Linked DNA regions of Homo sapiens. The protein of the gene in region 2 interacts with the protein of the main gene of each other region in a pairwise test. Each region holds a gene or a part of one and is shown on either strand. Other genes may lie near its edges.

What was found.
Region 1: the proteins of CEP70 (region 2) and ZBTB16 interact in binary tests that used the Homo sapiens proteins (3 or more experiments, as listed by UniProt).
Region 3: the proteins of CEP70 (region 2) and ZBTB24 interact in binary tests that used the Homo sapiens proteins (3 or more experiments, as listed by UniProt).
Region 4: the proteins of CEP70 (region 2) and IPCEF1 interact in binary tests that used the Homo sapiens proteins (3 or more experiments, as listed by UniProt).

The regions. Positions count from the first base shown.
Region 1 is NC_000011.10:114,251,703-114,257,289, reverse strand, and holds the end of ZBTB16 (zinc finger and BTB domain-containing protein 16), read right to left. Parts: 3' UTR 525-5,587; downstream 1-524. UniProt on the Homo sapiens protein: Acts as a transcriptional repressor. Transcriptional repression may be mediated through recruitment of histone deacetylases to target promoters. May play a role in myeloid maturation and in the development and/or maintenance of other differentiated tissues.
Region 2 is NC_000003.12:138,584,232-138,591,263, reverse strand, and holds part of CEP70 (centrosomal protein of 70 kDa), read left to right. Parts: intron 1-7,032.
Region 3 is NC_000006.12:109,466,215-109,473,246, forward strand, and holds part of ZBTB24 (zinc finger and BTB domain-containing protein 24), read right to left. Parts: intron 1,521-7,032; coding exon 1,439-1,520; intron 361-1,438; coding exon 1-360. UniProt on the Homo sapiens protein: May be involved in BMP2-induced transcription.
Region 4 is NC_000006.12:154,346,796-154,353,827, reverse strand, and holds part of IPCEF1 (interactor protein for cytohesin exchange factors 1), read left to right. Parts: intron 1-7,032. UniProt on the Homo sapiens protein: Enhances the promotion of guanine-nucleotide exchange by PSCD2 on ARF6 in a concentration-dependent manner.

The DNA.
Region 1 (5,587 bases), on a different chromosome or scaffold from region 2:
ACCTGTTCCTCCTCCTGGGAAGATTGTCCGGTGGTAGGGGTAGCTCCAGGCGGTTTCTGCTCAGCAACCCCAGGGTCAGACAGACCCGGGTCTTGGCCCCAGGAGAACAGGGCTGAAAGGTAACCCTCCCAGTGCCACCCCTGGCAGGCCAGGCCTTGTTTGGCTCCCCAGGTGGGTGGCGGTGGCGCGTGGGGTGATGGCTCCCTGCGACTCCTGGTGATGCTGGAGGCCAGGCCTGATGCTCGGTGTGGGTTTACCCTACCGGAGTGACCCAGCACGACAATCATGGCTGTGTCCCCTGGGTCTTGAGGAGGAGAGGGGTTATTTTGGTCAGAGACAGGCAGTGAGGACGGCCTCAGGCAGAGGTGCTGAAGCACCACGTCTAGGATTGAGTGGCTTTGGTTTTACAGCTAAAGATAGGGCGATGCTTCTATCCCCGATAAGAGGAACGGGGAAAGGGCCAGAGAAGAGGGCTTGGCCCAGACACAGGGAGATGAGACAGGGAGGGAATCGTACCCATTGAGTGTTGTGGAAATCCTTTATTCCGTCCATGACAATGCAGAGCTTGCACGGCCACCTCCCACCCATCCCCTCCCCTGCACAAGGCCACCTGCTCCAATCTCCTTTCTTAACAGCTCTTGGCTGCTACAGACGCAGGCAGGGACCTTTGATTGTGTGGAAGCTTCTTGTTGAGAAATTTCTGAAGCTTGCTTAGCCACTAAGGAGTCAGTTGAAAATGTCTCTCTAAAGACTAAAGAAGACGTGAGACCCCTGCTTTGAGAACTCTGGAGTAAAGGAACCTGGCCTGGTATCAGGAGAGGTGGATGGAGTTCTGACTGCTGCTCACCAGCCGTGCAATCCTGAGCAAGTTATCCTAACACAGCCACGGATTCCGACTCAGCGGCCCGCTAGCATGGTAGCCCCAGGGCGGCCAGGGTTTGTCTGTTTGTCCTTTGCTGTAATTCCCAGCGCCGACAACAGTAACTGGTACATGGTGGTCTTGCTGAATAAGTGAACAAGTGCCTACCTAGCACATTGTACCAAGGATCATACGATATTAACGTATTTAACATTTTTTAACTAAAAAGTATTAGAAAAATGTTATTCAGTGCATCTGTGCCTTGTAAATGTGGCATAAAAGTGACACATAGATAAGTCTAAATATGTGTAATACAGAGCTTTCTTTTTCCCAGTCCCCACACAAAAATCTTAATTCCTCTACCATGTTCCCCACACAAGAAAAGGCAAAAAAAACAAAAAAAAAAAACAAAACAAAACCAAGTACTTCAATAAAAAGGTGGGACGCTTCAAGCGAGAGACAACTGAATTAACTTTATTCTCTTCTAACTGCAGATTCAAGGTATACAACTGAACATTGCTATTTTTCTTATGAGACTTATAAATAAAAATACAAAAAATGTTCACTACAAAAAAATCTACTGTTAGTAGGATGTAAAAAATATTCTCTTTGCTATAGAAGGCACAAACTTCACTTAGTGACACATGGAGAGAGAAAAAAACCTGCAGCAGTAAATTCATTTTTTCTTTTTTTTTCCTTTTTTTTTTTTTTTAAATCTTGTCAGAAACACTGAAATTACAAAGAAACGCGTCAATCTACACGAAACGAAGGCAGATGCGGAAAGCTGCAACCAGGACTGCACAACTTCGAGTGAAACTGCTTCGGAACTAGAACAGATAAGGAGCGGCAAGCACAACTCGGGGAAGTGGGCTGGGGAGGGGGCAGCAGGAGGCAGGAGAGAGGGAGAGAGAATGGAGTGGACAGAAATGAGACGGGGAGCCAGAGGGAGGAGGGGAGGGCGGGAGAGGGAGATGGAGAGGGCAAGGGTGAGAGGTGGGGAGGAGAGAAAGAGAGAAAGAGATTGATTTGTACAAAAAAGTAACCAGTAAAATTGAAGAAACAAAATTGGGCAACCTCCTAAAATTAGGCTAAGAGGAGGTGCTGAGGTAGACATTAACTAGAACATTGATGAATTAAAAACACTATTCTGTAATACAGAGCAATCCGACTGGCACTTGTGCTATCACGACATAAGACAAGCCACAAAAACAAACAAATAACAAAACGAAACATAATACCCAAACCAAAAGGCTTAGTTTTGCTTGGTCCAGCAGGGCAGCAGGGCCCTCAGTGCTATAATTTACATACATATATATATATATTTATCTTTATATATACGGGTTGGATGTCATGGTGCACCACCACGGCTTCTTAACCTTACGAAGATCATGCATAACACTATGTGAACAAATCCTATGATACACACCAGGAGGCTGGTACCCTGTCTGCGAAGTTGGATGCCAAGGGCCCGGGGAGGCCGCAGCTGCTGGCTAACCGGCCTGCAGGGCCTGCACCCCTCTTTCTCCCCACCCTTTTCCCCTGACCCAACCTCTCTGGTTTGTCCTGCACCCCTCTCCTGGCCATCTCTGCCTTTTTCCTCTCCCCATCTGTCCCACCGCGTAGGGTGAGTCTCGCCTTTCATCCTCCCACTGAAATATCCAGGTAAGTGCCACCATTACAGCCAAGCCGGCAGAGGCTCCAGGAAGGAGGAGGTATGATGGGAGGGGGAAAGATGACCACAGGATGGGCCTAGGAAAAGTGAATGAACAGAGTCTCATCTTCTGCTTTTCTGTCTCACATCCTGGTGCGCCCCCAGTTTTCACCCTAGCTCGGCTTGCCGGGAAGCAGGCCCAGAAACTACCCTGACCCTGCCAGCCGTCATGGACAGAGTCGAAAGGCTGCCCCACCTCTGCTCTCTCCCCTATAGGGAGGTAAGCTCAATGGCCCTCTTCCATCCACAGCAATTGTACCAATAGCATCCAGAAAGGTACCATACACTTGTGAAAAATTGCAGCAGTTTTTTTTTCTTTTTTTTCTCAACATGGAAAAACTGTTCAGGCACAAAGATTAAACAAGCCCGCGTTGCATCCCTTGGATTGTACTGAATCACTGGGTCCCCCAGCCTCCCTACCTACCCCTGCACCCCAGATCTGCCTTCCCCATATTCATGGCCTCCTCCTCCAAAGCAGCCCAAAGCAGCAATGATATTTACTATTTTATATCAATCTCTTGCTATATATATATATATCTATATATCTATATATTTGTCTATCCTATATATACATAGGATTTTAATGCTTTGAATGAGTGAAGGAGTGAATAGGGAAAGAGCACATGAGGTGTAAATGTCACCAAATGCATTAAGGGACATATTTGTAGGAGCTGGACATGGGAAAGGGACTATTAACCAACGTGGCCTTGCCAGGCTGGAGAAGTTTTTCACTGTGCTGGATAAGGCAGTAGCAAGCAGGGTTGTCAGCAGTACCACAGCTAAAGGCAGCCAGGGGGCCGAAGGAGTCAGGTGGCATGAAGAAGAGGGGAGGACAGATATTCAGATCCCACCTGGGGAGAGACCCCTGTCTACCCTCCTCCTCTCCCCTTAACTCCAGACACATATAAAGCCTCCAGACAGCCTCTTAGCTTGCCCCCTGGCCACTAGGCCGTGCAACATTAGAACTGTTCTGTTGTTGTAGGTAGGAAGTTGGAGAAGAGGCATGTTAGACTCTATTCAGGTGTCTTCATGGGGAGAGGAAGGTACAGTAAGTTCAGAGGTGTCCCCAGACAGTAGCCCTCAGAAACCACACTCCCCTGAGCTCTCCCCATACCTCCCTACTGGGGTCTGCAGGGCCCACGGGGTTGGGTGGGGCATCCAGGTGCTGATTTAGTACCATCCATTGCTGCAACACCAGATTACGACAATACTGCATGATTTAACACACAACCACACACACAAAGCACACGCGCACACGCACATACATGTACAAAGGGATATTTTGGTGGTGGTGGATTTTTTTTTGTCTTTTGTCTTCCTATTCACATTACAAAAGGAAAGGGCAAGGTTCTGCAGAACTGACGAAGGAACTAACAGATACTACAAAAATATTACAATTTGTGAAGATTAGCTCAACCCTCTCAGCTTTTATGAATGGAGCGGGGAGGGGCCCAGGCTGAGTGGGAAGGGCATGGGAGTGAGGGGGCCAGCTAGTTCTATGGAATAGTTTGATTTTTTTCTCTTCCTTCCCCACCAATGTTGAATGACATCTTGCTGTTAAAAATACTGTTTTCTGGGATTTACAGATCCCCTGAGGGCCAGCCAGTCCCCGCTTCTTCCCAGACCAGAGGAGGAAGCCATAGTGCATAATGATTTCTTACAGACGGCCCCTCCCCCAAATGATTTCACCCTTTTCACATTATAAACATGACAACTGTTCTAGTCACGTATTTCAAGTTTAACTTCTTTTCCTTTCCAAAACACTAAGTCGTTACTATAGTTGCAAAATAGCATCCTCCCTACTTTACCATCCCTAATCCACAGTCTAGTGACACCGTCCTCCCAATTCACATCCTCCCAACACACAATTTTAAGGCCTTCAGATTTGGTGGATGAGATTGAAGGGGAGGGCAGGAGGGCTGGGGCCGAGGGACGGGGGGGTCGTCGCAGCAGCACCCATCCCTCCGGCTTCCCTACATTCCTCGTGATCCTTCTCCCCAAAACCGCTTCCCTAAACCACTTTGTAAAACCTAAGATCAAAACGCAGCCACAACTTTCTCAGAGAGAGAAAGGAAAGAAAAAATAATAATAAAAAACTCTTACACATAAAGCATGAGATGAAACGGAGGGTCCGTCCCAAAGCAAACACGAATATTGCAAATGTGCTTTCCAAAATTCAGGAGGGTCGGGGGAGGTTGGGGAAAAGAGGGAGGAAGAGCAGCAGAATGGGAGGCGGGAAAGGAACAAAAGAACAACTGGACAAACATAAGAGGTAGCTTTTAGAAAAACAACACCCCCACCCCAACACAACAAAACAAAGGCTGGATCCCGCCCCCCTCCCCAAAGACCAGCCGTGAAAATAGACCAATTCTGGCAATGAGAATGCACGCACAGAGGTGAGACCACACAGTTGCAAGGATCCAAACACAGGCCCTCAAACCTCAATGGCCCAGCAAATTGTAAGAAAGGTGGGATTCTCTCCAGAGTGTTTTAGGCGGAACGGATGGTGGCCACAGGTGACTTCATGCACCAGCGGAGCCAAAAGTGACTCCCTAGTGCCCTCTGGGGACCATGAGACCCCAAAGCAACATCCCCTCCCCACCCACGCTCTTCGCCCTCCTCGGCCCTCACATTCAGATCCTGAGTATCAACTCCTCCTGCACAGTTCCTGCCAGCTGGGAGGCTGGTCTCCAGGGGCACGGGGAGGGTCTTGACCAGCTGAAGTCTATAAAAACAACTATTAATTTACACAAGAAACAGAAAAGAACACCCTCCCCATTCCTCCAAGCCCCAACCGAAAAAGAGATACAGAGGTTAAGAAAGCTCATGAGGTCACAAAAAACTGAGGTAATTCAAGTACAATGTGCTAACAGGGGACACAGAAAAGAAGCAAAACATAACACAAGGCCAAAGCGCTTTCAAATCCTCCTCCTCCTGCAGCTCCTCCCCCTCCTTCTGCTCCTCCTCCTCCTCCTCTCCACTGTGGACCGAGGGGCGCTGTGAGTCAGGAATTCTGT
Region 2 (7,032 bases):
AGCTAATTTTATACATTTTTAATAGTTTTATGCATGAAATGAAGTTGTGACTGTGACCTGTCACATAAGGTCAGGTGTGGAATTTTCTACTTGTGGTGTCAAGTTGGTGCTCAAAAAGTTTTGGATTTTGGAGCATTTTGGATTTCAAATATTCATATTAGGAACGTTCAACCCGTACCAGCTTTATTTTGGTTAGGTTAGCATTTCCTTTACTTTTCTATTTTTTGTTATTTAACAAAATCTTTTTAGCGTAAAATGAAATTTTTGTTATAAATCACATACCAAATGTATAGCTTAATAAATTATTACAGGACCATACCATTCAGGTATGCCAGATCCCCTCCATTACCCTATCCCAGTCAAAACTCCTGTGTTCCCATTTAGTCACCATTCTTCTGGGTTTTATAGTTTTGTAGTAATCACTTCCCTGTTTTTTTTTTATTATTTATTTATGAGATAGAGTCTCATTCTGTTGTCCAGGCTGGAGTGCAGTGGCACGATCTCAGCTGTCTGCAACCTCTGTCTCCTGGGTTCAAGTGATTCTCCTGCCTCAGCCTCCTAAGTAGCTGGGATTATAGGCACACACCACCAGGATCGGCTATTTTTTTTTTTTTTTTAGTATTTTTAGTAGAAACGGGGTATCACCATGTTGGCCAAGCTGCACTGTGAGCCTGGCCTCCTAGTTTTTGATAGCTTCCTTGTTATATAATATATTGAACAATTCCTATCGCAGATATGAAATCAGCCATTTCTTTAAAATGCCCGGGTTTCATTTAGAGGGAAATAATATTTCAGTTACAGTCTGAATGCTAAAGATCCTGAGTTAGTCACTGTTTCAGGCATTTCAGTAGACAGAGCTAGGATACCTGTATCTGTCTATAGACACACATGTTAAAAGATACCTAATGTATTCTACTTCCAGTCTTCAGATTGAGATTACAGAGCTTTTACTTAACAACTTCTCTATCACAACTGTAACTCCTTTTTTCCATACTGAGAATCATGATTCTCAAGAATATAGGAGAAAATAGAATATTCCATATTTACTCATTATTCTGTATTATACATATGACAGTATCAGAACTATATTTCTGAAATCACCATCAATATGATTACTGAAAACATTAAACCTTTTTTTTTTGGCTTATGTTCTTCTCATTTTTTCTTCTCTCTCTGTTTTAACAGTTATGCTCTATCTGCATTGTCAGAGTATATAGCCATTTCATGTTCTGCTTTTTCCCTCTTAGCCTATTAGTTCTATTAATATATTTAATGTTTACCACCAGTGTTTATGCTGAGGTCTCTCTAGGCATTTTGGCTACCTGAAGCTAATACATTGTTAGATTCCTCGGGAAGTAATATTGTCTGAGTTCTTATATATTGATCAAAGTTTATTCTTTTTATACTTCAAAGTCAATTTTGCAGATATAAAGTCTTTGGCTCACACTTCTTTTCCGTGAATTTCTTAAATACATTACTCCTTTTTCTTCTGGAATAAAGTATTGGTATCAAAGTCAGATTATTATCTAATTTTTCTTCTTCTTATAAGTCATGTGGGTTTTTTTCTTGTAGATAACCAAATAATTTGTTTTCTTTTTTTCTTTTTGAGATACAGTCTTACTCTGTCACCCTGGCTGTAGTGCAGTGGTATGATCTTGGCTCACTGCAGCCTCCACCTCCTGGGTTCAAGCAGTCCTCCCACCTCAGCCTCCTGAGTAGCTAGGACTACAGGTGTATGCTGCCACACCCAGCTAATTTTTTTTTTTTTTTTTCTTGAGAGACAGGGTTTTGCCAAGTTGCCCAGGCTGGTCATGAACCCAGGCTCAAGTGATCCACCTGCCTCAGGCTTCCAAAGTGCTGAGATTACAGGCATGAGCCACTACGCCCAGCCAAATTTTTTCTTTTTCATTAAAGTCTGCTAATAATATTAGAATATATCACTGTGTTGGTTGTTTTGGGTCAGTATTCTCAGGTACTTCATATTTTCTTTCCATTTGTAGTTTCAAATCTTTTTTTAAATTTCAGGAAAACTTTATTTTTAAAACAGCTTTATTGATATATTTAATATACAATAAGCTGCACATATGTAGTATAAGTTTTGACTTACATATACACCTATGAAACCACCCCAATCAGGATTGTCAATATATCCATCATCCCCCCAAATTCCCTTGTTCTCGTTAGTAGTCTCTGTGTCTAGCCTCCAATTCTCTCAGCAACCACTGATCTGCTTTCTATCACCACAGTTGGTTTTCATTTTCTAGAGTTTTATATAAATGGAATGTTATAGTATGTACTATTTTATGGCTGGCTTTCAGCGTAATTATTTTGACATTTATCCATGTTGCACATATTCTTTTTTATTGCTGAGGGGTATTCCATCCAATGGGTATACCACAGTTTGTGTGTCTGTTCACCTGCTGCTGGACATTTGAGTTGTTTCCAGTTTCTGGCTATTATAGATAAAGCTCTTACGAACATTTGTGTACAGTCTTTGTGTGGACATAATGCTTTCATTTCTCTTGGGTAAATTCTAGGAATGGCATGACTGGGTCTTATGGTAAGTGCTTATTAACCTTTTAAGAAATAGCCAAAGTGATTTACAAAGTGGTTGTACTAGTTTAAATTCCCGTCGGCAGTATATGAGAGTTCTAGTTCCCTCACATCCTCGAAAACACTTGGTCTAGTCATTCTTAGCCATTCTAATATGTGTAGTGGTGTCACATCGTGTGTTTTAATTTGCATTTCCCTCCTGACTAACAATGTTTAGCATCTTTTTGTGTGCCTAGCTGCCATCTGTATGTCTTCTTTTGTGAAATGTCTATTGAAATTTTTTGACCATTTTTAAGTTCAGTTGTTTACTTCTTGTTGATGTTAACTTCCTTACTAAGTTTTGAGAGTTCCCTATATATTCTGGATATGAACCTTTTCTGATTCCTGACTATTTTCTCTGAGTATGTGGTTTCTCTTTTCATTCTCAGAATGTTATATTTTAAAGAGCAGACATTATTTTTATGAAGCCCCATTTGTTCTTGAATTGTATCATGCTTTTGGTGTCATATCATAGACATGTTTGCCTAACTCAAGGCCATACAGTTTTTCTGTGTTTTTCTAGACATGTTGTGATTTTAAGTTTTAGATTTATGTCATTCATTTTAATTTTTTTGTATATGGTGTGAGATATGGCTGAAAGTCCTGTTTCTTTCTCTTTTTTTTGTACATGGGCATCCCATTGTTCTAGCATCATTTATTGAAAAAAAAAAACTATCGTTTTTCCTGCTAAATTACCTTCGTATCTTTGGTGAAAATTAGTTGTCCATATATGTATGAGTCTGTTTCTGGAATCTATTTAGTTTCATTAATCTGTTTGTCTATCTTGATATCAATGCTATATTGTCTTGATTACTATAGCTTTATAAACCTTGAAATGATATAGTATTAGTCCTTCAACTTTGTTCTTCTTTTTCATTCATTCATTTATTAATTTAGAGATAGGGTCTTGCTTTGTCACCCAGCCTAGAGTGCAGTGGCACAATCATAGCTCACTGATTAAACTCCTGGGTTCAAGTTGTCTTCCCACCTCAGCCACCTAAGTAGCGAGGACTACAGGTTCATGCCACAATGCCTGGCTAATCTTTTTTTTGTAGAGATGGGGTCTTGCTATGTTGCCCAGTCTGGTCTTGAATTCCTGGGCCTCAAGCTGTCCTCCTGCCTCAGCCTCCCAGAGTGCTGGGATTACAGGTGTGAGCCACCATGGCCAGCCTGTTCTTTTTCAAAGTTGTTTTGTCTTTTATAGATCTTTTGCAGCTCTGTATGAATTTTAAAATCAGGAAAGTTTCCTGAATTATAGTTTTTTTAATTGGTTCTGTTGTTTTAGTTTTCTTTTTCAATTACCACTATTATGTGTATGTTTGAGCTTCTTTGCCTATCTTTGTCATTTTCATATTTCTTCTTCATTTCTTTTTAATTTTTTAAAATTGTTTTCCTTTTAATCTCTATTTCTCTTAAGGCATTGTCTGTAGTCTTTACTCATTCATTTTCCTTCTTTAATCTTCATTTCAGAAATAATTAGTTTTTAAAAGTTACTAATTTCTAGATTCTATCAGCTCATTTCCAAGTTTTATTTCTAATTATGTTGTTTATGTCTTACAGAGTTTTACATGTATTTTAGTTTGTTTTAATATAGAGGTTATAGTTCCTATCTGTTTTGTGAGCACGTCTTTCTAGTATATTTTTCTTGTCTGTAGAGATTTTTTTTAATATGAACTTTTACAATTTAAAATTTTTTTAATTTCATGGGTGCACAGATGTGTATGTTTATGGGTTACATGGGATATTTTGATACACCATATAATATATAATAATCATATCAGGGTAAATGAGGTAGCCACCATCTTAAGCATTTATCCTTTGTGTTAGAAACAATCCAATTATTCTCTTTTAGTTACTTAAAAGTGTGCAATTATATTATTATTGAATATAGTCAACCCATTGTGCTAGCAAATATTAGATCTTATTCTTTTTTTCTATTTTTTTGTACCCATTGACCATCCCCTCTTCCTTTCAGCCCACCTGTTACTCTTCCCAGCCTTTGGTAACCATCCTTCTACTCTGTGTCTCCATGAGTTCAATTGTTTTGATTTTTGGATCCCACAAATAAATGAGAACATGTGATGTTTGTCTTTCTGTGCCTGGCTTATTTCACTTAAAATAATGACTTCCAGTTCCATCCATGTTGTTGCAAATGACAGGAGCTCATTCTTTTTTTATGGCTGAGTAGTACTCCATTATGTATATGTACCAGATTTTCTTTATCCATTTGTCTGTCAGTGGACACTTGGGTTGCTTCCAAATCTTGGCTTTTGTGAATAATGCTGCAGTAAACATGAGAGTGCAGATATCTCTTTAATATGCTGATTTCCTACCAAAAATATAAAAAATTGGCCAGTGTGGTGGCATGTGCCTATAATCCCAGCTACTCAGGAGGCTGAGGCAGGAGAATCGCTTGAACCTGGGAGGCAGAGGTTGCAGTGAGCCGAGATTGTGCCACTGCACTCCAGCCTGGGCGACAGAGTGAGACTCAAAAAAAAAAAGTTGTTTCAGATCCTTATACATCCTGGCTATTAACCCTCGTCAGATGGGTAGTTTACAAATATTTTCTCCCATTCTGTGGGTTGTCTCTTCACTTTGTTGTTTCCTTTGCCGTGCAGAAGCTTTTTAACTCAATGTGACCCCACCTGTCTATTTTTGCTTTGGTTGCCTGTGCTTGTGGTATATTACTCAAGAAATCTTTGCCCAATCCAATGTCCTGGAGAGTTTCCCCAATTTTTTTGTAGTACTTTCATAGTTTGAGGGCTTAGATTTAAGTCTTGATTCATTTTTATTTGATTTTTGTATATGGTGAGAGATAGGGGTCTAGTTCCATTCTTCTGCATATGGATATCCCAGCACCATTCATTGAAGAGACTTTTCTTTCCCCAATGTATGTTCTTGGCACCTTTGTCAATAATGAGTTCACTGTCAGTATGTGGATTTGTTTCTGGGTTTTCTGTTCTGTTCCATTGGTCTATGTGTCTGTTTTGGTGGCAGTAGTATGCTGTTTTAGTTAATATAGCTCTGCAATATAATTTGAAGTCAGTTAATGTGATTCCTCCAGTTTTATTCTTTTTGCTCAGGATAGCTTTGGCTATTCTGGGTCTTTTGTGCTTTAAATTTTAGGATTATTTTGTCTATTTCTGTGAAGAATGTCATTGGTATTTTGCTAGGCATTTGCATTGAATCTGTAGATTGCTTTGAGTAATATAGATATTTTAACAATATTGATTGTTTCAATCTATGAACATGGAATATCTTTTCATTTTTTTGTGGCCTCTTCAATTTCTGTCATCAGTATTTTATAATTTTCATTGTAGAGATGTTTTACTTCATTGGTTCAGTTAATTCCTAGGTGTTTAATTTTCTTTGTGGCTATTGTAAATGGGATTACTGTTTTGATTTCTTTTTCAGATTGTCCTTGTTGGTTTATAGAAATGCTACTGATTTTTCTAAGCTGATTTTGTGTCTTGCAGCTTTACTGAATTTGTTTACCAGTTCAAATAGCTTTTTGGTGGAGTCTTCAGGTTTTTCCAAATATAAGATCATGTCACCTGCAAACAAGGATAATTTGATTTCAAATTTTGATGGCCTTTTTTTCCTTTCTCATGTCTAACTGCTAGCTAGAGCAATTCCAGTCCTTTTTCATCTCTAGCTAGAGCAATTCTAGTCCTAACTACAGCAATTCCAGTCCTTTTTCATCTCTGATTTTATTTGAATCTTTTTTCCTTTCTTCCTTCATAGTCTGGCTAAAGGTTTGTCAATTTTTTATCCTTGTTCTGTTCTAGATCTTAGAGGAAAGGCTTTCAGTTTTTCCCGATTCAGTGTGATACTGCCTGTGGGTCTGTCATACATGGCTTTTATTATGTGGAGGTATGTTCCTTTTATACCTAGTTTTTTTAGGGTTTTTTTTTTAAATCATGAAGGAATGTTGAATTTTATCAAGTGCTTTTTCAGTATCAGTTGAAACGATCATATGGTTTTTGTCTTTCAGTCTGTTGATAATGATGTATCACATTGATTGATTTGCATATGTTGAATCATCCTTTCATCCCTGGGATAAATCCCACTTGTTGATGATGAATGATCTTTTTAATGTGTTGTTGAATTTGGTTTGCTAGTATTTTGTTGAAGATTTTTGCATCAATATTAATCAGGGATATTGGCCTGTAGGTTTTTCTCTCTCTCTCTCTTTTTTTTTTTTTTTTTTGATATGTCTTTGTCTGGTTTTGGTATCAGGGTAATACTGGCCTCATAGAATGAGTTTGGATGTATTCCCTCCTCTTCCATTCTTCAGAATAGTTTGAGTAGGGTTGGTGTTAATTCTTTAAATGTTTGGTAGAATTCAGCAGTGAAGCCATGGAGTCCGAGGCTTTTCTTTGCTGGAGGACTTTTTATTATAGCTTCAATGTTGTTAGTTGTTATTGGTCTGTTCAGGTT
Region 3 (7,032 bases), on a different chromosome or scaffold from region 2:
GTCACAATGCTGATTCCCTGGCTAGGACCGGGCATGAAATTGATGTTATGTACAGAATCGGTTACGAGAAGCTGAATTTCCTGCTCTCCCGAGGTAGAGAGTTGATATGGCTGTAGCTGAAGAATATTCCTGACCTCTTCTGTATTACTACTGCCAGAAATGCTGCTGGCATCTGAAGCATGCTTCTCCTTGCTATGAATTTTCAAGTGAGCCTTCAAGTTGTCTAAGCGAGCAAACTGTAAGTTACACTCAGGGCAGGAGAAAGGCTTCTTGCCAGTGTGTAGAATGCAGTGTCTCCTTTTGGCACTGGAGTCAGAGAAGGATTTGCCACAAATGCCACAGGAGTATGGCTTTTCTCCTCTGTAAGAAAATAAACATTTTATTTTTAAAATGGAAATACCTACTTACTACTTCCTGATTATTTAGGGGGAAGCAATCAAGAGTAGTGGAAAATTAACTAGACTGCAAGTCATAAGTCATGGGTTCACCTACTAATTCAAGGACTTGAAGCAAGTCTCGCTTCCATGGGCAGTTTTTAATCTGAAAATAGGGTGTGGGTGGTGCCTGAGGAAGGGTGGCAGATGGGGCACGGCTATATATGATAAAATTTTATGATTCCACAGTATGTATTTCAGATAAGAAAAGAGAGTAAATATTTATACAATAAACATATAGTTCTCTTTTGTTTTGTCTTAGTTTTCAGAGCCAATTTTTAGACTCTAATGGCCCAATAAGTATCTATGATTAATGTCAATTTAAAAAATTTAAGCATCCTCTAATTATTTGTGATGCTGTCAGAAGAACTCCTAAGTCCAACCTGGGGATAACTGTGTAAACAAAAACATTTATTCAGAAAACATCAAATTTAATACTTATTTTTGATTGAAGATTTAAGCTTTGGACCAATCCGTAGCCCCAATCAAAATTTAATAAATGAAATCAGTAATGTAAACTTTTACTGGCCAGAATCAGCATTCCTTTTTACCTAGGTGAGGAATTTCATTATTGAAAAGATAAAACAAAATAGGCCAGGTGTGGTGGCTCACACCTGTAATCCCAACACTTTGGGAGGCCCAGGCAGGCGGATCACTTGAGGTCAGGAGTCTGAGACCAGCCTGGTCAACATGGTGAAATCCCGTCTCTACCAAAAAAATACAAAAACTAGCTGGGTGTGGTATCCCAGTTACTCAGGAGGCCACGGTGGGAGAATCGCCTGAACTCCCACCTGCACTCCACTCACACCACTGCACTCCAGCCTGGGCGACAGTGAGACCCTGTCTCAAAACAAACAAACAAAACAAAGCCAAAGTAATAAACTGCACACAAAATTCTGCAAAGTAACAACTGGGAGAAAACTATATAGGTAACACATGTCACCTCACTGAACAGCAGAACTGAATGAGGCCTCCATGCGAGAAAAATATCTGCAAAACTTTACCGATGGATTCTGATGTGGGTCTGAAGAGAACTCTTTGCTGTGAAAGATTTGCCACAGATTTCACAAGTAAATGGCTTCTCACCTAAAAAAAACAAAAACAAAAACAAAAAACCCAAAACAAAAAAACATTTAACAATATACATTCAGAATAAGACAAAATTAAAAAAACACTTCGGTTTCACAATATAAACAGAACAAAGGCAATCCCCTCCGTAAGCGTAAACGAATGATGCACTCACCAAATATCTACTCTGTAACTAACCTAAGCACTGTGTGCCGAGTGCCAAGAGCATACACAGAAATCGTAAGGCATGGTTCTCTTAAAAACCTGAAAACTGCAACAAGGAAGTGAGTTACACTGTATTTACTCCTGTTTTCTCCCCTTAGATATTACAGCACCTATGCTCTCCTGCCTTATTGCTTGGCTAGGTAGCCCACTTGACCCTGAAAGGACTCCTGTGTGCTAGGGTGAGTTATGTATTATTCATGTTTATATCAACCTTCCAAATATATCCAGAATCTGACCACTGCTCAGTACCTCCACTGCCACTCTCTTGTCCACACCACCACCATCTCTTGCCTCTTATGGGGTCTCCATTTCTGCTCTTGCTTCCCTGCCATAAACTATCAATATGGCCACCAGAGTGAGCCTTGATGCAGTCAGGTCATTTTATGCTTGGGCTGCAAATGTTCTGATGATTTCCCACCCCAGGATAAAACCCAAAGTTCTTGCCCTACAAGCGATCATAGATCTGTACCCCATAAACCCTACTCCTCACCCCAAACTTCCCGGATCTCATCTCAGGGTGTCTCCCAGCATGGTTCACTCTCCTCATCTCCTTCAAGTCTCTGTTCACATGTTATTTTATCAGTGAGGCTCCATCACCACCAAGAGCACTACAAACCTTGCCACGCACTCCTTAGTCCAATTCTCCAATTTAGTTTTTCCACAATGCTATTGCTGCCTCATATAATGTATAAGTTATTTATTATCCATTTCTTCCTTTTTAAGATAACTTGTGGGTATGTCTGCTCCTAGTACCCCAGTGCCGAGAATCTGGCCTGGCATGCCATTTCAGAAATCCCTGCTGAATGAACTTCATGGGAGTGGCACACCTGAGATGCTATAACTGCTCCAGAACCCACCAGGCTTCACTAACATCAGCAAGTGCTTATTCAGTGTGTTTGCATGCTGAACATACAATGACAGACTGTTCATGTTCCCCAGAAACAAAATTAAGTAATCCAATGCAGGCAAGAAAACTAAATTGGAAAAAAAGAAAAAAAAAAAAAAAGCAAGCAGCAAAATCCACTTAACTGGAGAACAGGAGAACAGCAAAGGATAAGTACAATTTGAAATGGAAGATGGTCAGTGAGCTTCCCTTTCACAGCATCTACTGGAAAATTCAGGCAAGACATTTCTCCAAGCTCCATCGAGGCAGAGGACAGCTGTAACAACTCGGATGAATCTGCATCTTTGCATCATGAACTCTTACCACTACAAAGATTAAAACCAGGCAACTGCCATAATCTGTCTATAGCTTTCTACATCAGAGCTGGGGCCTTCTCTGATCTTGGTTGGTTTTCTCCCTCTCCAGATTCAAAGACTGAGTACCTGCTGTTTGCTTGTGATTGTAAAATTCTTGTTGCAGTTTTCAGGTTTTTAAGAGAAAGAACAGCAACAATCATCCATAACAACATTAACTATACCATTCAGCTCCAGCTGAGTTTCTATTTCAGAAAGTCTGTCTGATGGCAAATGTTTTTTGAGGGTAAGTGTTTGCAGGAGCAACATCCTGCAGTGGAAGCTCTTTGAGGGAGTGAGCAGGACAGTGGGAAGGCAAATTTCCCTAGCCAAGGTCAATCTGCAGGGGGTCTTCCCGCTTAGTGGTTTCTGATCTGTTCCCCTGTGCACAGCTCTACCACCTTCAATGGAGACACCCATTCCTTAAATTTATTTAGTTCTCAAACACTGATAGACCATCAATAAAGTACACAGCTAAGAAACAAAAAAGAAACTTTTCTAATCTACTTGAGGAGATGCACAAACTAATTAAGTAACATAGGGCTGTGTTTCACTGAACATTAAAACGAGTGGCGTCAACAATTCTGAGTGCAGACAGGGTGCTGGATGGGGTGGGCAGGATCTGGCTAGACTGGAAAGAAGCCTGGGCCAGGGTACTAGTCTAAATAGTATGAGCAGAAGCTGGTGTCAGAAATGACTACACGGTGTGCACCAGTGACCAAGGATCACTGTCAGGAGTCAGGAGGCCAAGGCAACAGGAGCTATGAAATCCAGGCAGGGGACCTGTGGAGCCTCTGGAAGTTTTTAGCAGAATGACATGCTGAAAGTACTAAGAAAATACACCTGGGAATGATGAGGAGGGTGGGCTAGAGGCAGGAGGACCTCTAACAGGCTATGCACAAGGCCTGGACCAGGAGGTGGCAGGAGGCAGACGGAGAAGGATAAGGTAATAGGACAGGGCCTGAGAGGCATGGGGACCGGAAAGAAGTGTGTTACAAGAGGATTAGACAATAGCGATTAAAGGAAAAGGCAGAGACAGGAGTGTGATGAAAGGTTCCACCCAGGGTGATGTCAACAGAAGTACTGAAACAGCTCCAGGGTGTACTTCCAGACCCTCTTCTCAGCAGTTACTACACCAATCCCACCCACCCAGGGTGATGTCAACGGAAGTACTGAAACAGCTCCAGGGTGTACTTCCAGATCCTCTTCTCAGCAGTTACTCCACCGATCCCACCCCTACCCTTCCCCAGTGACTTAAATCCCGGACCCCACTCCAGATAGGATCGATGAGTCACTGCTTATTGGCATCACAGCTGGATTTCCCATGCCCACCTGCTGAAACCCAGAATAACATGGGGCATGACATGTTAATGACAACATCACCCAGCCCCTGTCCAGCCAGGCACAACAATCACAGTGACACCTCCCATTCCCTCAGCTGTCACATTCACCTGGCAGTCCAGTTCCGTCCGTGTGGACCCCTCAGCATCCTGCCTCCCACTGTGGACCACGGCTTTGTTTTTCTTAAAAAATTACTGTGTTCATTGTAAAAGAATCAAATATTGAAAATACAAAGAATATTAAAACTGCTCCACTATTCTCATCTCTTGAGACAACCAGTTAACAATGGCGAATATCTTTACAGACAAATCTGTTTATTTGCGGTCTTACTGTGTGAGGTCATCCAATGCATGCCGTTTGTCACATCAGTAAAGCCACACCACCATTTTAAAACCCTGTGCTGTGTACCATTGTGTGTACTGCCCCAAATTTACCTATCTAATCCCCTCCTGGGACATTCAGGTGGCTGTTAAGCTTGTTAAGTTATAAACAATGCTGCCTATGATGAATATCCTTAGGCAAACATCTTTTCACAATTGTGCAGTTTATGTTTTGGTAAGTATTGCAAAAGTTCCTTCCAGGGGGTTCCCAAATTATATTCCCACCAACAATAAATAAAGATGTGCATTTCCTCATGTACTTGCCAATCTTGGCAAAAAAGGGACACATGTCCATGATAACTGTGGATAGCATGGTTTGACACCTGTGTACTTGGCATTCCTATATGGTCTTCTCAGCTGTTTCCTGTCCTGTGTTCACACCTCTGCTGTGGCTCTGACCACGCCATACTGTTTCATAGTAGATGGCACGTAGACTCTGTAAGGGCATGTTATGGTGAGGGGCCCCCAGGTCTCAGGAAGATGGGAAGACCCCCAGGTCTCAACGTTAATGGATGGTCTCAACACACAGTTGAAGAGATTTGGGAAGCTTCAACTTCAAGCCACAATGAGGCTGTGAACAGAACTGTGACTTACTGAACTTTATCATTTGTTCCCTGACAGGGCCATCTACCTGTGAGTAGGAACCCTCAGGGCAGAATCAGTGTTTATGGAACACCATCCAGGAACAGGGACACTGGCGGGGTGGGACTGTGCTGTGGGGTCAGAGGTCACTCACCAGGCTTCTCTGTGACCTGGGCTAATTCCCTTGACTTGTTCCCAGCTCACCATGCAATCTTCTGATCACTAACTTGGCTTTCGGGTCACTAATGTGAGGAAGGAGGTGCTGTGGGCAACAGAAAGGTGTAATCCCTCTATTGAGTTGATATATCCTCTGGTTTATCTGTCCTGTGAACTCATTTGGCTTGATTGGGTCCCTGTAAACCTGACCAGTGCCAGGTATGGGGACAAGATGTGAGCAGAAGGGCCTGAGATGTGGTGACCTGGCAGGTACTGCTTGTCTGCCTGACACTTTGCCTCCATGTCAAAATGTGTTCACCTCCCTCACTGGGGATGCACTCCTAGGAAAGGGAACATCTCTAATTTGCCTTTGACTTCTCCAGTGCTTGGTGCAGGACATCTAACCCAGAGAGTTTGTGCCTAAAGATCTAAGAGATGAATGACAGCTCATCTCTAAGAGATGAAGTCTTGGTTTCCAGCTGAGCATGGCCCTGAGAGTAGGACTGGCACTTCTCACTCTGAATGCCCAGGGAGCAGGGAAATGGCACGCCAATGCCCTTCACCAACATTCAAGCAGATTCTCCATGCTGATGCTAGGGACAGATGGGTCATAGTTGCTGCTCTTGAAGAACCCCAATTTTTTGATAGGTTCAATTTCTTTTCATATTTCTAAGTCATGCAAACCACAGAGGCCCGTCTGTCTCCTTTTTAACTCATCACACATCTTCCACTTTCTGTTCTGCTTCTCAAAGTTGACAGGCTGAGAAGAGTTTGCTGGAATTATAGTGGGGGAGGTCTTCTGTTCCTTTTCATCCCCACTTCAAGTCCTACTGCTACTCACAAAGCCCAGAAACCTCACTCCCCCTTATGCTCAGGCAACAGAACCAAGGGGAAGTGCCTCTTCTGGCACTGCTCAGCATGACCAAGCCAGCTCCACGCTCCTCCACCACCGCTGTCTCCCTAGGGAACTCAGCACAGCGCCACCCACTATTTGCAGGCACATGTGCACCTGTGGAAATCCAGAGCTCTGGCTGCATCTCTCCCCCGAATTCTCCAGACCTGGAAATCTAATGATCTACCCCACACCTGCACATGGATGTCAAATAGACACCAACCAGTCCACAATCTAACTCCTGATCTGTTCTTCTTAGTCTTCCCTAGCTTTTCCTCCTCACAGTGGCTTTTGCCTCCTCTTTCAACTCCCACATCCAATCATGAGCGAATCACATGAATTCTTCCCTGGACTATCTCCAGAACTGGACCACCTGACACCACCTCTGCTGCTACTGTGCTGTTCCGAGCCCCACTACTGCACAGCCTCCTGATGGGTCTCTCTGCCTCCACCCTGGCCTCGCCCCCACCTCACAGGGTGGCTAGAGTGACCCTATTACAACCCTAAGTCATGCCATGTCACTCATCTCAGTAAAGCCATCTCCCTCAGAATAAAATCCAATCTTTACTGTGGCCTTCAAAGTACTTCAGCCCGAGTGCACCCTACAACTGTTGAGGGGTACTTTAAAAAACACCAATTCCCAGGCTCTGCCCAGGTGAAGTCAATCAGAATCTTGGCAGCTGGGACAAGGCTTTTTTTTAAAGCTTCCCAGGTGGTA
Region 4 (7,032 bases), on a different chromosome or scaffold from region 2:
AATGCTAAGTCCAAAAAGGAGGAACATAACTTTTTCAACTATGTAAAAATACTGCAGAGAAGCAAGATTTGGGTGAAATGCATTAAAATGTTAATATATGAGTAGTGGGCTTATAGCTCGTGGTTCTTCTTTCTTTGTACTTTGTACTCTATTTTCTTCCCAGATTTTTCATTAGTGGAACATACCTGAACTATTTTAATAATCTGAAAATAAAACAAACGTTGAAAGAAAGTAAATAGGCCCGGGTGCGGTGGCTCTCATGCCTGTAATCCCAGGACTTTGGGAGGCCAAGGCGGGCGGATCACCTGAGGTCAGGAGTTCCAAACCACTCTGGCCAACATGGCGAAACCCTGTTTCTACCAAAAATACAAAAATTAGCTGGGCATGGTGCGGGCGCACGTAATCCCAGCTACTCAAGAGGCTGAGGCACAAGAACCACTTGAATCCGGGAGGCGCAGTGAGCCGAGATCACGCAGCTGCACTCCAGCCTGGGCAATGAGGGAGACTTCATCTCAAAAAAAAAAAAAAAAAAAAGGAAAAGGAAAAGAAAAGAAATGGACAAAAATGTAACCCTCCTTAAATCTTCCACCAACAGGACGACAAAAGCAATGTTTTAGTGATAGTGTGCTGAAGTTCATGGTTCATTGCAGTCTAAGAAATGACACTTAAAATTTATGTTATTTAGTCTTTGTAGGGAAATCCCCTTTGAGAGTAAGGCTGGTGCAGAATCATGTGTCAACTCTGAAGTGAGAAAAAGGAAACGTGGTCCCACTGGGGCTGGCTGGTCTGATTAATTCCTAGAATGACATGAAAATGGGTTATTTTCTCTGGATGACTTATAACTGCGTCTAAACCTGAGTTTGATGATTTCCTAAAAAATGCAATAGTCAATTTGTCAGTTATTAATTATAAGTTAAATTTAAATCTCCCAATATAATTGTTAATACATTTCTTAGGGAATGTTGCCATATGTTTATCATCTTGGTACTCATAGGGAGAGGTCATAAAAACATTTCTATAGAGTCACAGATTATTTTATAGATTCAAGAATTATCATTCCTGTTGTTAGAATCTTGGCCCTGCCGTCTCACAGGGCCAGCAGGTCACCATGGAGTCCCTTATCAGGGACGTAACCAAAATAAAATATTTTGGCTTGTAGGCATTGAAAAGAATCTTCTGTCTTTGTCTTAGAATCAATCTTTGTCTTAGAAAGGAGAGATAGTCGGCAGACAAAAAGGCAAAGGGCTGAACAAATGTGAGCAAAGACAGGTCTCCCAGACTGACACAGGGATTGACATAGAAGCAGCTGAAAGGTGAAAAGTGAGCCAGCTTAAACTCAGCCCAAAGTTACTAGAATGTGGATGAGTCTTTCAAAAGAAGTCTGAATAAAAAAATGACCAGATCGTCAAGGAAAACTAAGTCAAGTTAGAAATGAAAGAATTAATTGAAGAAACAAAAACCCAGCATGCACTAAGCATTGAAATAGAAACAGCAGCAAGATAGGATTCCCAACAGATTCTATAGCATTTTCTGAATATTTCATACGTGGAATGCTGAATAAAAAACCAATGATATTACTGAGCACTTGCTAGGTTCTAGACACTGTGATCTGCACTTTTATTTTTACCTTTTAGTTTACATTTACATTTAGTTACATTTACAATTTCTTTTTTTTTTTCTTCAACTTTTACTTTACGTTCCAGTGTGCATGTGCAGGATATGCAGGTTTGTTACATAGGTAAATGTGTGCCATGGTGGTTTGCTGCATAGATCAACTCATCACCTAGGTGTGAAGCCCAGCATCCATTAGCTTATTCTTCCTGATGCTCTCCCTCTCCCCCGGCCCTCACAGGCCTCAGTGTGTGTTTTTCCGCTCCCTATGTCCATGTGTTCTCATTGTTCAGCTCCCACTTGTAAGTGAGAACATGCGGTATTTGGTTTCTTGTTCCTGCGTTAGTTTGCTGAGGATAATGGCTTCCAGCTCCATCCATGTCCCTGCAAAGGACATGATCTTGTTCCTTTTTATGCTATTTAAGCCACTTCTTAAAACAGTTCTGGGAAATAGTACTATTGTTATCTCCATGAAATTGAAGCTTAGAGAGGTAAAGTCCCCTGCCTCAAACCACCACAATAGGCAGGGGAGAGGGATTCAAACCCAGACCTTTGTGTCTCTGAGCCTGTGGTCTACCATTCTACACATTACATTGTTTTCATTTATGTTAAAGGTTTTGTTATATAAATAGTGATTTGACACCAAGGGCGAGTCTGAGCAGAGCAGATTTGCTCTCTACTTTAAAATCGCCCAAGTGAAATTCTTTTCTATTCCTTAGTGAAGAGATAGTGGAAAGGAGTTGTTCTTTTTTCCAGGAAACTGCCTGTGCCTTGACATGATTGCACATCCGTGATTGTCTTCTTAGGCAGTCAGGTGGTACCACGTAGGAAATGCTTCCAGCCAGCAGGGAACAAAAGGGGACTGGGGGGACCTCAGAACCATTCCTGGGTAGTTCACAACCACAGTCAAGATATGTGACTGTTCCGTCACCACAAAGATCCCTCATGCTGCTCTTTCATAACAATACCCAATCTAATTTTAAAATATTCAATTTCCATTTTGAGTATCATTGGACCCATATTGATGGGGCCTTCTATTAGGCTCAATTTTTTAGCGGGAACACCGCAGATCAAAAGGCTAGGAGACTTGAGTGTCCTGCCTGTAGTATATGATAGTTTTGCGCTACAAGCAAGCATTTAACTTCTCCACGCTTGAGTTGTCTCATCTATAAAAGCTGAGATAAAAATACCAAACCAGGCCAGGTGGGGTGGTTGATGCCTGTAATCCTAGCACTTTGGGAAGCGGAGTTGGGAGGATCGCTTGATGCCAGGAGTTGAAGACCCACTGGGCAATAAAGCAAGATCCCATCTCTACAAAAACAAAAAAATGTGGCCAGGTGTGGTGATGTGTGCCTGTAATCCCAGCTACTCAGGAGGCTGAGGCAGAAGGATCTCTTGAGCATAGGAGTTTGAAGCTGCAGTGAGCTATGATTGTGCCACTGGTGTACAGCCTGGGCAGCAGAGTAAGACTCTGTCTCTGAAAAAATAAAAAAACTAACCAATTGCGTTGATGTATGGGCCAAATGAAAGTAAGCGTATATACTTAGAAGAAAACAAAAATATTATAAACCAATGGAGCCCTTCTTGGAAGCTAATACAGGAGGTAAAGAATGAAAGTAATTTTATGTGCTAGTAATAAGCCCATCTGTATTGCTGGCAAGCACTTCTAGGGGCCAAATTGGACGTGACTCATTTCTATGAAGTTAACTTGTGGCATTGGGCCTCAAACAGTAGAGTCACTTCATCATTGAATGGGAGTGAATAAAGACACTCTCAACAATGAGACACATTTACAAAATGAAAATCAGGCTATTGTGAAATCTATAAAAGATTTTCTTTCATAAATGGAGTCTAGATAGTGATCCCAGATTATCATGACAATTTGGTTACTTGTTAGATATGGAACATCAGCGTCTATTTGGGGGGGATATTTATTTACCTCAGTTTGTATTGAAATAAAAGTTCAAATATTCTGAAAATGATGCAATGTGATGGAACTTTGATCCAAATATAAAATCTAAGGCTGCAATTTAAGTGTACAGCAAGTGGAAACTTCTCAATAAATGGATGTTAGATCATTTTAGTGGTTCATCTGTAATCGTTGATCACTTTGATCCATAAATTTAGGCTGGTACCTGCATAAGTACTTTAATGACAGCATAAATAGCCAGGATTTCAAGCATATTCTTGAGTTTCCCTGTGACATAAGAATCTCTTAAATCCCCTTTTCAGCAGAATTTGAATTACCCTAATTCCTATTACATGATTATCCCCAGCAGAACAACATTCTTTTAACAGGTAAATATCATTATAGGAAGCTAATACATTTAATCTATGTAAAACTAAAAATATCTTTTTTCTCCTCCTCTTAATTGATCCATATTTAATTTTCTTTAGACTTGTTAATTTTATATAATCTTTTTCTAACTATGCAGTAGAAATCTGTGACTGGATAGATTTTTTCAAATTTGGACAGGGTAGAAGTTCTTTTTTTCCTGACTATTGTGAAGGAAACTGCATTCTTCAGAGTTTTATGCACTGATCTGTAACGCCAGAGAGGAATAGAACATTTAACTACTTATAGGCAAATGTACATATATTAATAGAGACTGAACCTTAGTCTAAAACAGGAAAATAGGCCAGGCACAGTGGCTCATGCCTATAATCCCAGCACTTTGGGAGTCTGAGGTGTGAGGATCACTTGAAATCAGGAATTTGACCCAGCACTTTGGGAGGCTGAGGTGGAAAGATCACTTGAGCTCAGGAGTTTGAGAACAGCCCAAGCAACGTATAGCAAGACCTCGTCTGTACTAAAATAAATAAATAAATAAAATAAAATAAAATAAAATAAAATAAAATTAGTTAAGTGTGGTAGAGCATGCCTGTAGTCTCAGCTACTCAGGAGATGGAGGCAGGAGGATCACTTGAGCCTGGGAGATTGAGGTTGCAGTAGGCAATGATCGCACCACTGCATTCATTCCAGGGTGACTGAGAGTGACCCTGTCTCAATAATAATAATAATAATAATAATAAGATAAAATAATACAAACCTCTGAGAAAGGAAAAAAGATGAAACCAACTCAAAACATTTCCCAGGAACCTTAATTTAACATTATTCACTCCTAAAGAATATAATTCTTTGTAAAGTGTCACAGTTTATCCAGAGATAAGCTGTACTTTATACAAAGTTATGTTTGAAGGAGAAAACCTTTAATTATTTGAAAAACTAAGCAAACGGCTGTAAACATGAAAACCATGCATTTTAGGCTACTTGTTTATGATTATTCTGTTTGAATAGCTCAGACTACAGCACACTATTGGATAAATCTGTAATAGTTTTATGGACTGATGAGAATATATATAATCTCATCCATTTCTTGAACATGTTTGAAGATTCTACTATTCTAATAGATTAAATGGTTGTTGCAGGAACGTTGCTGTTTATTCGCTGGGAGTGCAAGTCATTTGTAACAACTTTGTTCTTTCCACCGATTAAAAGCCTGAAGCAAATGATATTAAAGACCTTATTTTCTGGTTCCTTGTTAAGGCACAAATCCCAACCTCTTTTTCCATCCTGACAAAAAATAGTCAAGCAGTTGTTCTTACTAGTGGTTGTGAATGCTGACCATATAATATGATAAGGACCCACTTACGAATATTCAACCTTCACCAAATACTTATTGAGTACCTAATATTTTCCACGTAATGTGCCAGGTATTTCACTGCAATTAAATGGACAAGATCACCTTTGAAATTCCCCTGGAATCGTGTGAATTAGTATTGCCTCTTGGTTAGACTCAGTTATAGCCAGTCTATCAAAGAGAAGTGCCTGAACTTGAACTCTCTTGGTCAAATACACTCACAGTTTTCCAGCTAGAGCTGGATTTTACTCTGGAACACAGCTACCAGAGTTTTCCACACTTGGATTTTCAACTTGATTAATCAACTAGAGCAGCTTTTGCGTAGGTAATGGGGACTTGAGGGAGGGACTGTGGAGCAAGGTTTGAGCCAGGCACTCGAGTACTATTCAGTTTTATTTTGTGAACACTCACAAACATTCCAAAGTTATGTACAAATTAGTTGCCTTGAGAGGAACGCTGGAGTCCCAGATATTCTGAGCTGAGAAGCCAGCACGGGGAGAGAGACACCGAGTCACCAAAACACAGTAAGTGGGCTGAGCAATGAAGGCTCAGCGACTCCTGATTGCCTTGAAGTGACTTTGCTTTCAAGTTGGCATTAGCTGTAGTCACAGGGTCCTAGACATGGGGTGTAGTAATTTCCACCGGGCATTGCATCCTCTTTGTGTTCTGTGCATTGGGAGCAAGTTAGCAAGCGATCCCTCTGTCAATCTCAATGGACTTCAGGCATTGAGCACCAAACCACTGTCCACTCCCCACGAGCTCACGTTTCCTATCATTGTGGAGGTGGCCTTTTGCCAATGGATGGATGCTCCTGGCCTATGAAATATTCTAGGCAATGCCTGGAACTTTCTGGGCAGTAGGAGCCACTGAGGTGAGCCTTAGAGCAAGGCAGAAAATAGAGTCCAAGAGGACCCCTTCTTTCTATAGGCTGGTGAAAAAGTAGTCTTTAATGGCAAAACCTGCAACTACTTTTGCACCAACCTGATAATTGCAGCTTTTCCAACAGGCCATGCAGGGCTTCCCCAGCCCCACTGGCTGTGTGGCACATGGAGGTAACATGTACTGTCCTCTTGCTGTCTGCAAGGGACGGTGTTAAAGGCTTTACATTCATTATCTAATTTTTTAATCAAATAGCTCTAGGAAGTGCTGTTATTATTAACTAGTTCCCTTTCTCTGATGAGAAAACACAGGTTCAGGGAACTTCAAACCTGGCTCAAGGTCACCCAGAAATAGTACAGTCAGGGTTCCAACCCCAGCAGTTTGACTCTGGGGTCAGAATTTGAGCCTAGGCTTATTTGACCTGAGCGTCCAGTATATAGCTGTCCTGAGGGAATATACTATAATATAAGGAAAAGGATGCTACATAATTTCTTATTTTTGGATAAGGTTGCTTTGTGCTTGTCCACCTTTCCATTCCTGGAGCTGAGAATGTGTATAATCCAACCCCAGAGAGGCCAGAGGAAGCCTGTTTGGGTGAATAATGATTTTAGGAGTGCTCAGCCCAGATTTGCCTGAGCCTTGAGGAAAATCTCATTCCCAAAGACACTTCCAGATCAAAGCTGAGGAGAATTGGGGTTGAGGGTGATGGAGCATTTGTTTCTAATAATATAGATTGAAAAGGGGAAGAAAACAGAGATTAAAAAATAGGAAGGCAGAGTTTTGAGAGGATATGCTTGGATAGGGATAGAGTCTGGCCACCCAAATCTTACGTTGAACTGTAATCCAAATTGTAATCCCCACGTGTTGGGGGAGGAAACTTGTGGGAGGTGATTAGACCATG